3 linked regions of the Homo sapiens genome follow. The protein of the gene in region 1 purifies or fractionates together with the protein of each later gene. This does not show direct contact. Each region holds a gene or a part of one and is shown in the gene's direction. Other genes may lie near its edges. The genes, in order: TMTC3, PPP2R2C and COTL1.

The links.
Region 2: the proteins of TMTC3 (region 1) and PPP2R2C purify together in Homo sapiens (co-immunoprecipitation; one large-scale study listed by IntAct). This does not show direct contact.
Region 3: the proteins of TMTC3 (region 1) and COTL1 fractionate together in Homo sapiens (co-fractionation; one large-scale study listed by BioGRID). This does not show direct contact.

Annotation. Positions count from the first base shown.
Region 1 is NC_000012.12:88,194,234-88,197,426, forward strand, and holds part of TMTC3 (protein O-mannosyl-transferase TMTC3), read left to right. Parts: intron 1-604; coding exon 605-1,416; 3' UTR 1,417-3,193. UniProt on the Homo sapiens protein: Transfers mannosyl residues to the hydroxyl group of serine or threonine residues.
Region 2 is NC_000004.12:6,322,500-6,326,152, reverse strand, and holds part of PPP2R2C (protein phosphatase 2, regulatory subunit B, gamma), read left to right. Parts: intron 1-2,559; coding exon 2,560-2,851; 3' UTR 2,852-3,653. UniProt on the Homo sapiens protein: The B regulatory subunit might modulate substrate selectivity and catalytic activity, and might also direct the localization of the catalytic enzyme to a particular subcellular compartment.
Region 3 is NC_000016.10:84,611,426-84,615,078, reverse strand, and holds part of COTL1 (coactosin-like protein), read left to right. Parts: intron 1-3,653. UniProt on the Homo sapiens protein: Binds to F-actin in a calcium-independent manner. Has no direct effect on actin depolymerization. Acts as a chaperone for ALOX5 (5LO), influencing both its stability and activity in leukotrienes synthesis.

The DNA of each region.
Region 1 (3,193 bases):
ATACATGTTTCCTAAATCCTAATTTTATAGCCCTATATTTAATGGTATGTTTTTGTCCTCGAAACATTCCTAAAACTTTGAAGTAACATTTTTTAAAATGTGATACAGTCATTCTGAAGCTTTTTTCTACCCAGTAATAGTTACTATTTGCTGAACATTTTTTCGATATACAACATACAATTATTAGAAAACTCAGTTAACCCAGAGAAGTTAAGTAACATGTTCAGTGTATAAAGTCATAATGTTATCAGAATCAAGATTGAATACATGTCTTTGTTGGCAAATCCCATGCTTCTTTTTCTGAATTCTCTATTTTCCTTCTATTTCCAATTGAATTCTAAATTATAAGAGACATTTCTCTCCTTTTGGTTTCTGAAGCACTGTTACTGCTTTAAAGGAAAAGAAATAAGCTATCTTTTTACTGTTTCAAATATTTTGCTTTTCCTATGAAGACTTCGAGATTTTTGCTTTCTACTTTTTTTAACTATGGAAATTAGTTGTTTTGAAGCTGTCTTTTTGTAATCTAAGTATTTGAAAATGGCTTTGTTCCTCACATTTAATTATTTTATTAACAATATATTTTTTCTTTAAAAAAACTTTCTAGGTGAGGTTAAACTCAGACCTGAAGCTAGAAAACGACTTCTAAGTTATATAAATGAAGAGCCACTAGATGCTAATGGGTATTTCAATTTGGGAATGCTTGCCATGGATGACAAAAAGGACAATGAAGCAGAGATTTGGATGAAGAAAGCCATAAAGTTACAAGCCGACTTCCGAAGTGCTTTGTTTAATCTGGCTCTCCTGTATTCCCAGACTGCAAAGGAATTAAAGGCTTTGCCAATTTTGGAGGAGTTACTCAGATACTACCCTGATCATATCAAGGGCCTCATTTTAAAAGGAGACATTCTGATGAATCAAAAGAAAGATATACTAGGAGCAAAAAAATGTTTTGAAAGGATTTTGGAGATGGATCCAAGCAATGTGCAAGGAAAACACAATCTTTGTGTTGTTTATTTTGAAGAAAAAGACTTATTAAAAGCTGAAAGATGCCTTCTTGAAACACTGGCATTAGCACCACATGAAGAATATATTCAGCGCCATTTGAATATAGTCAGGGATAAGATTTCCTCATCTAGTTTTATAGAGCCAATATTCCCAACCAGTAAGATTTCAAGTGTGGAAGGAAAGAAAATTCCAACTGAAAGTGTAAAAGAAATTAGAGGTGAATCCAGACAAACACAAATAGTAAAAACAAGTGATAATAAAAGTCAGTCTAAATCCAACAAACAATTAGGAAAAAATGGAGACGAAGAGACACCCCACAAAACAACAAAAGACATCAAAGAAATTGAGAAGAAAAGAGTTGCTGCTTTAAAAAGACTAGAAGAGATTGAACGTATTTTAAATGGTGAATAACATTAATATTTATCGTGACAATGGTATCAAAGAACATCAATCCGTATCATGTGATTGCTTTTACTGGGAGCTTTGAAAAAAAGTTCAAGGGTTCCTAATGGTCAATCATGAGCTGCCTTGAAGTAGGATCAAAATAAGATTTTCATTAAAGACCTGTATTATCCCAGGATGTATATTATGTATCGCTGTTTTCAGAGTGTGGGTGAATATAGCAGAAATATTACAGCGGAAGTGACAAATTTACAACTTTTATTATAGAAAGAAGGTGTTTCTGGCAATGTAATCTTTACTGCTCTCAATTAAAAATAATTTTGAGGCCTGAATGATAATCCCTTGAGGACAAATCCAACATGTGCTGGTTTATTCTGTTAATTCCCATTTATTTGCCTACTTCATTTTTCTTGCACCTCTTAGAATCTAACTATGAATTGAAAACACTTAAGTAATTCTGTTTAATCAAGGGATTTACACTACAAAAGAATGCTGGCTTTTTTTATGTTGTATTCCTTAGTTGAGTTTTAGAAGGAATGCTTGATGAAACATTTTAAAATAAGTCATGACATGTTAGCTTGAGAATGTATTTTCATAATTGTATACTTGTTTTTAACTTTAAATGTAATTTTTAATCAGGTAAAGTTTGACACATGTATAGCTACATACACACATTTTTAATGGTGCTCATATATACTGTATTTTTTGTTGTTTAGTTTTACTTATTGAGAGTGTCACAACATGAATCACATAATCATGATTTTTTTTTTTTACTTTTACTCCCCAAATTATTCATGTTTCTTAGATCGTAGTCATTGAGAAGTCCCAATAACTCTAAACTTTTGAGTTATAACGTAGTAAACTTCTCTTTCATCTTTGTGTTAGCTCTGTAGTCTTAACCTGGATTTTAATTTTTTTGTTTCCAAAGTCACAATTGAATTATTCTTAGATACCTTAAGCCACTGAATTCAGTTCTGTTTGACTGAAAGCAAAACAACGTGACAGTTTATTTTCAAACACTAACTTCTTGATATTTTGTTATGGTATATCTTTTTATTAAATATTTATTTTGACTAAGCTTTCATAAAATATTTGAAGCTATTTTAATCATCAAGTATGGAAAACAAATTACTATTGCATTTTCCTATATATGCATATATTATGGATTAACCAGAATTGTATCATTTTTGGCCTAATGTCTGGATATAAAAGATAATTAGCCTACTATAGTATTAATAAATTTTTCAGTTGGTTTGGGCAAATTTAAACCTGAAAAATAGGTTAAAAAGTAGTTACAAATTAAACTTACTAATTTATACCTGATTTTTTTTCTTGAATTAAAGTACATTTTAAATGAGCTTTATAATACCTTAAAAAGTTGGTTCTAATTTAAAATATGAAAGCTCTGGCTATCATCCTGGGATAGTAATTTCTAATTATATAGTATTTCAAAACTATATATTTTTTAGTTCCTTTGAGATAACTAATTTCTAATTATATATGTTTCAAAAACCATATCCTGTATTTTTTTTAAGAATTGTTTTATAAATAGGTCATAAGATACAAGGTCTGCATTAGAAGACCCACTCTTACTAGGTTCCCTAAGGATCTGCCATAGATTTTTTTTTTTTTTTTTTTTTTTTTAGGTAGTTTAAAGCAAGCACTGATACCAGTGGGAGTTGGTCTTGATCTAGGAGATTCTGTTAAGCATCCAAAAACAATGCCTAATTTCAGTTCTTAGGTTATGGCTTGTGACTCCAGATAAAAGATGGAGAATACCTCATGT
Region 2 (3,653 bases), on another chromosome or scaffold:
CTCTCATGGAAGGATCTGATTGGCTCTGTGTGGGTCACTTGCCCACTTTTTGCACCAATCAGCATGGACAGGGATATCACATGCCCAAGTTGGCCAGGCCAAGGGGCGAGGAGAGCACTGTGATTGACCGCTCACAGGGATAGGGAGTGCAGTGGCGCCATCTCGGCTCGCTGCAACCTCCGCCTCCTGGAGTCAAACACTTCTCCTGCCGCAGCCTCCCAAGTAGCTGGGATTACAGGCGCCACGGGTGGCGAGGGCAGGAGCCTTTCTTTCCCCAAAGGAAAGAGGAGCGGAGCACTGGGGCTGAAAGCAGCCGGCGTTGTGGTCCCACATGCAGATGAGGCTAGGAGAGGTGAAGCAGCTCCCCTGCCCTTTTCCCTGTTAAGGGAACCTTCTGGAATTTAAGAAACCTGCCTGAATGTGAGGAATGGCTCTCATGGTGGTGCGGCCTGGTGCTCTAGGATGAGAGGGGCCCCTCCCTCTCCCCCAGAGCACGTGTCAGCTGAATTCCACACCCGAACAGGGGGAGGATCAGGAACTGTGTGGGTTGCAAATGACTTTAATTATGTCGCTCTCCTTCCACTAAATGGATCAGAAGAACCAGCATTGTGTGAAATCACCCAGGTTCATTCTGTGAACTGTTCCCTGAAGAACAAAGGGGGCTGCCTCCCCACTGTGCTGGCGCGGGGAGGGTGTGGCCTCCCCCAGTCAGCCTGTGGCGCCTGGGCAGGGCCCTTCTGTGGGACTCGTTCACCCGGCCCCCCTCGCATGCTGCTTCCCTTGTCCCAGGCTCTGAGTCACATATAAAGCGGGTGCGGCTTTGGTCACATGGACGATTAGGATCGAGGAGTACCTGGTAAATAACAAGAAGCAAAGTGCCTCAAGCCCAGCACTGTGCGGGGTGTTCAGCCTATGTCCCCTGATTCACGCTCACCAGGGGCTGCGTTCCCTTGTTGATCCCAGTTCTTATAGAAAACTAAGAGAGTGCGCATGTCAGGGTAGGGCAGAGCTGGGATCCGGACCCAGGCGGACTGGCCAGAGCCCAAGCCCCTGACTGCAGTGCCGGAGCTCACGTGTGAGCTTTTGTCCTCTGTGCATAACCCCTGGAGACCCAGGGATCCACCTGGTTCTGTCACAGAGCAGTGTCACCCTCAGGAAGCCCAGCTCAGCTTCCAAAAGGAAACAGGATTTCCTCCCTGAAGAGCCTTCAGCAGGACAACTTCTTTATGGTCGCTTTTCGTAACATCCTCTTCCTCCCCAGTTACCTTGCACCTCACAGCTGCTCCAGGGCCCTGCAGAGGCCAAACCCCAAAACCCTCCCTCTGGGCGCAGGCCCACAGAACTGTGCTTTCTCTCCTGCCTCTTACTATGTGGATGAACTTACCCTTCCTCCCACCGGCAGGAACCCCTTCTCCTTAGGAGCAGGGAGAGCAGAGAAATGGTGTGGAATTCTCTTTAGCGGGACGGTGAGGGCAGCGAGCCCCTGCACGTCAGCACTGCTCGCCCCGACCCTCATGGCGATGCATGTTTGTTTATTCGCCCGAGTCCTCGGGACAGGCGGGCCCCTGGAGGGAAGCAGGGCCTGGTGGTTTTCTGTCCCAGCTGCTTCCATGTCTACCTCCTGCTGTGGTTGCACAGTCTGTTTGGAAGGCCAGAGCTTTCTCTCCTGGACTAACAGAAATTACAGGAGGGTCTTTTCTTTTCTTTTCTTTTCTTTTTTCGAGACGGAGTTTTGCTCTTATTGCCCAGGCTGGAGTGCAGTGGCGCGATCTTGGCTCACTACAACCTTGCCTCCTGGATTCAAGCAACTCTCCTGCCTCAGCCTCCTGAGTAGCTGGGATTACAGGTGCCCACCACCATGTCCAGCTAATTTTTGTATTTTTAGTAGAGACAGGGTTTCATCATGTTGGCCAGGCTGGTCTCAAACTCCTAACCTCAGGTGATCTGCCCGCCTTGGCTTCCCAAAGTGCTGGGATTACAGGTGTGAGCCACCACGCCTGGCCAGGAGGGTATTTTCATGATGATTGGGGCAGAGGATAAAAAGGATCTTAGCTCCTGGCCCCAAAGTCTGCATGTTGGTGGCAGCTGACATGTGAGGGGGTATAAGAGACCCCAAGATACAGGGGAATAGAGGCAGGTGTGGTTTCCCTTTCCAGGGAGTGATGGCTCTGTAGGCTCTGGGATTGCTTTTTCATTTGTTTGTTGTTTTGGGACAGAGTTTTACTCTGTCACCCAGGCTAGACTGCAGTGGTAAATCACAGCTCACTGCAGTCTCTGCCTCCCCAGGCTCAGGTGATCCTCCTGCCTCCCCAGGCTCAGGTGATCCTCCTGCCTCAACCTCCTGAATAGCTGGGACTACGGTCATTTTTAATTTTTTTTTGTAGAGGTGGAGTCTCGCTATGTTGTCCAGGCTGGTCTTGAACTCCTAGGCTGAAGCAATCCTCCCACCGGGGCCTCCCAAAGTCCTGGGATTATGGGCGTGAGCCCCCACACCTGGGCTTATTTCTCGAGAAGGGGCTTGTGCTCCTCCTCACCTGATGCCTCTCCTTCTCCCACCAGCGTCATCATGACCGGGGCCTACAACAACTTCTTCCGCATGTTCGATCGGAACACCAAGCGGGACGTGACCCTGGAGGCCTCGAGGGAAAGCAGCAAGCCCCGGGCTGTGCTCAAGCCACGGCGCGTGTGCGTGGGGGGCAAGCGCCGGCGTGATGACATCAGTGTGGACAGCTTGGACTTCACCAAGAAGATCCTGCACACGGCCTGGCACCCGGCTGAGAACATCATTGCCATCGCCGCCACCAACAACCTGTACATCTTCCAGGACAAGGTAAACTCTGACATGCACTAGGTATGTGCAGTTCCCGGCCCCTGCCACCCAGCCTCATGCAAGTCATCCCCGACATGACCTTCACGACCGCAATGCAAGGAGGGGAAGAAAGTCACAGCACTGATGAGGACAGCTGCAGAGGTGGCAGTGTGTGGACACAGGAAGTTTGGGCCCCCTCCCTGCCCCAGCTTTCCTAGGCCAGAATTGTGTTTGGCAGTAATTGTCTGTTTAAAAAAATAAAAAGGAAAGGAAGCGTTCACCGCCACAAATCATAAAATGGACATGACTGTGGAGTCTTACAGTTCAGGGTTCTTTCATTCACGTCCCTTCCTGTCTCGGTCTGCGGTCTTTACCACATCAATAGGACTTTTTATGCGTCCGGGTTAATTTTTCACTCCAGTGCGTCCTGTTGCAGGGACCGGAGCTGATGGGAGCTGCTTCTCCCCCATGCCTCACTGGTCCCAGATCAGGGCTCCAGGGACAGATGATGAGTCTCAAACGAGCCAGCCAGGGGTTCTTTTGGTTATAAATGGGGCAATTCGCCCTGTCTCAGAGCTGATGACCTCACCGTTGTTTTTTGGATGGTGAATTCATGCTGAGAATTTGCAGATGCAAGCTCCTCTCCTAGGTCTTCTGAATGTCTTGAAACATCCCAGGTCCCAGGTCTGGTGCGGTTTCCCGAGAGGAGCGGAGTGGGGTTTGTCTTCTGTGTGCCTGTGTCCTCATCTGATTCACCTGCCATTTGCTGAGCCTCTGCTGTGTACCAGGCGTGGTGCTCAGCCCTAGAGGCAGTTGACTTACCCTCTGCAGCCCTCCCTGCCGC
Region 3 (3,653 bases), on another chromosome or scaffold:
TGGCTGGATAGCAGTCACCACGCTCGACGTGCCTTATCTTGGTCATACCTCAGAACAGCCTGGTGTGGCAGGTACTAAGGTTACTCCTATTCTACAGATGAGGAAACGGAGGCCCAGAGAGGTTAATAGGCTTCCTGCATTCACCCAGCTAGAAAGTGGCAGAGTTGGGACTTGAACCCAGGCAGGCTGGCTCGGGGCAGGTGCTCTTGGCTTCTGAGGAGGTTGTTTAGATTCTCACCTCTCGTGGGATTGCTTGCAGGTTGCAAATGACATGGTTGCCCACTTGTGACTCAGAGAGGGCTCTTTTGTGGCCCCAGTTCCCTGCCAGGTATCCTGACAGGCCTGAGAAGAAAGGTTCCACTCTGGTTCGGGCTTCCTGCTTCCAAACATCTCACAAGGTGGCCAGCAGACTTGGAAGGCCAGAAACAGCACCCAGTTTCTTCCTTATAACCTCAGGGTGTGGGCCTTCCTGGGGTCCTGCTCTTCTCCCAACCCTCCCCACTCTGGCACTCAGGCATTCTCTCTGAAACACCCCCTTCCCTGGCCCTCCCACCTCAGGCTACTGTCCCTTCTCCCCTTCCTCCCCCACGGCTTTCCAGAATGGGATCTCTCCACCCAGCCTCCCCTCCTCATTTCTTCCCAGCCTCCTGGCCTGGCCTTTCCTCCCTCAGAGCTGTTTTCCAGAGGGCCACGGGGTGTCTGTGCTGCCAGGCCAGTTCCCTCCCACCCCCGCACTCATCCTCCCAATCTTTCTGCCTGCTCTGGGTCTGCGCTGCTTCTTCCCGAGCTTGCCTGGCTCCCGGCCTTCCTCGCTGCCTGCCCCTCCGCTACCTCCGCTCTTGCTTCTTGCTCCATAGCTCAGTTCGCCTGGGATGGTCAGAGACCTTGCGAGGGCGGTGAGAAATGCCCAGTGCAGATTAATGTAAGCAGAAAATCCACTGTGGCCTCTAGCCTGGAAACTCCAGGGGAAGTCCTAGCAGCAGCAAAGACTGCCCGAACTCCAAACAGCCTCTCCTCCTCCTCCTAGCTCTGTCTTCATCCTTCACCTCCATTCTTGCGGGGAGGGGGGAGGTTTAGCCCCTGGGCAGAGCCATCTTGGTGGAAAGACGGAGCAAGCCTCTTTGCCAGTGATTTTGGGGGTCCCTGGACTGTCTTTGGCCCTGAGGTCATGTGCCCATCCCTAGACCAATCATGGAGACTCTGCGTGGCCAGGCCTGGATCACATGCCCACCTCTGGAGTGGGTGGGGGGCGGGGCAGCCCCACTCAAACCAGGAGACTGACTTGAGGAGGTGGCTTCCTAGGGAAGAATGGCATGCCACTTTCACAAAAGTGTCCATTTGCCCCTTAACATCTCTGCTTTCCTCTTCATAGCAACAGTCTATTTGCCCTTAATCTTCCTTGTCTGGTATCCACTCTGTCCTCCCTTGCTGGGGTAATTCTTTCTACAGTACATTTCTAATCAAGTCACTCCTCTGCTCATTAACCTTCTATGGCTCCCTTCTGCCCCATTGGATTACACTCATGCTGTCTGCTTGGCTTTCTAGTCGGTTTGTCCCCACCCATATCTCCTCTCTAGTAGCTCCACACACCCTCCCTCACACATCTGCAGCCCAACACTGTAACATTTCCCGTCTTGGTGCTTTTGATTTTGGAGGTTTCTACCATGCGGTATTCCTCTTCCCCATCTCAACTCATTTAGGACTCAGCCACCCACCTAGCTTAGTGTGATTCCTTCTTCATTTCAACTCTGAGTACACTTTGGAATCAGAAACACTCTAGTCCGGGCGCCGTGGCTCATGCCTGTAATCCCGGCACTTTGGGAGGCCAAGGCAGGTGGATCACTTGAGGTCAGGAGTTCGAGACCAGCCTGGCCAACACAGTGAAACCCTGTCTCTACTAAAAATACAAAAATTAGCCAGGCATGGTGGCCGGCGCCTATAATCCCAGCTACTCGGAGACTGAGGCGGGAGAATCACTTGAACCCAGGAGGCAGAGGTTGCAGTGAGCCGAGATCGCGCTGTTGTACTCTAGCCTGGGCAGCAGAGTGAGACTCTATCTCAAAAAAAAAAAAGAAAGAAAGAAAGAAAGAAAGAGTCATTCTAGATTGACATCTCCGCTCTGCTTCTCACTCATTGTGTGTGTGGCCTTGGGCAAGTGCCTCCCTCCCTCTGTGCCTCAGTTTTTAGGTCTGTAAAATGGGAATCCTGACATGCCTACCTCTGAGGGTGACTGGGAGGGTTCACTGAAGTAATGCACCTAAAATGAGAGCACAGGCCACGGTGTGTGTTGGCTACCCCTACCACTGCTTTTCTTTTTTTTGAGACAAAGTTTTTCTCTGTCGCCCAGGCTGGAGTGCAGCCTCTGCCTCCCGGGGTCAAGAGATTCTCCTGCCTCAGCCTCCCAAGTAGCTGGGACTACAGGCATGTGCCACCACACACGGCAAGTTTTTGTATTTTTAGTAGAGACGGGGTTTCACCATGTTGGCCAGGCTGGTCTCAAACTCCTGACCTCAGGTGATCCACCTGCCTCAGCCTCCCAAAATGCTGGGATTACAGGCGTGAGCCACCGCGCCCGGCCTCAAATAATTATTTTTACTCTGATAGCACTCGTAGAGGCATTATGCTTTCCACTCGGAAGCTTTCAGTACACGTCCCCACTCAGCACAAAGTAGGCACCTGGCCCAGGCTGGTATGCAATAGGCATTTGGCCCCATGTGGACACGCATTAGACCCTTGGCCCGGGTCTGCATGAAGGAGCATGATGAGAGGTGCTTAGCTCAGTAGTTCAAGGTTTGGGTTTTGTCCGATTGCCTGGGTTCAAATACCTGCCATTCATGTGCTCTGGAGCAGGTGAGTTACCCATCTGGTAACCTGCTACAGTGTGGTCATTAGGAGGATTAAGGAAGCAAGTCCTTATGCTGCTTGGGACATAGTGAGCACTCCATAAATGTCAATTACTGCGATTGCCATTTTTGTTTTTGGAATTCAAGTGATGTGGAAGTAGCGTTCAAGAGCACCAAGAAGATGGAAGGGGGAGAGATGATGGGAAGGAAATGGGTGCTGAGCTGGGCTGGAGGGTCACAGGTTCACCTGACAGAGCCACTGGGAGCCTGGAGCAATCAGGGCTCAGCTGGCAGAGGTGGAGGGAAAGGGGCCATTTGCCAGACCGGTTGTATGATCTACCTGGCCACAGCAGAAAGGGCTTACAGATCACGTATGTGTGGCGAGGCAGTGGCTGGGGCTGTCTGTGAAATCACATTTTGTTTCTGCACCATTCAGATAATACATATTCTCTGTGGCATACTCATAAAGCAAGACTAAACCAAAAGAAGAGAATACCAAGTAGATATAGTTCAGATATAGTTTTGCAAACACTCAGGAACTTGTTCCTTCCTGTGTTTATTCCTTCATTCTCCTGTTTATTCATTTAATTCATTCGACATATGGGACTGCTACTCTGTGGGGCACGACTGTAGGCACTGAGGATAAATACAGAAGCAGAAAAGGCGCCTGTCCTCGTGGAGCTGACATTTTATTGTCATCTCCCAGGACAGACCGCTGGTCTCATTTTTATCTATATTCTTGAAATAGTTTTCTGTATGTAATTCTACTACAAAAGGGGATCATAGATATTTTAGAGCCACCTCCCACAA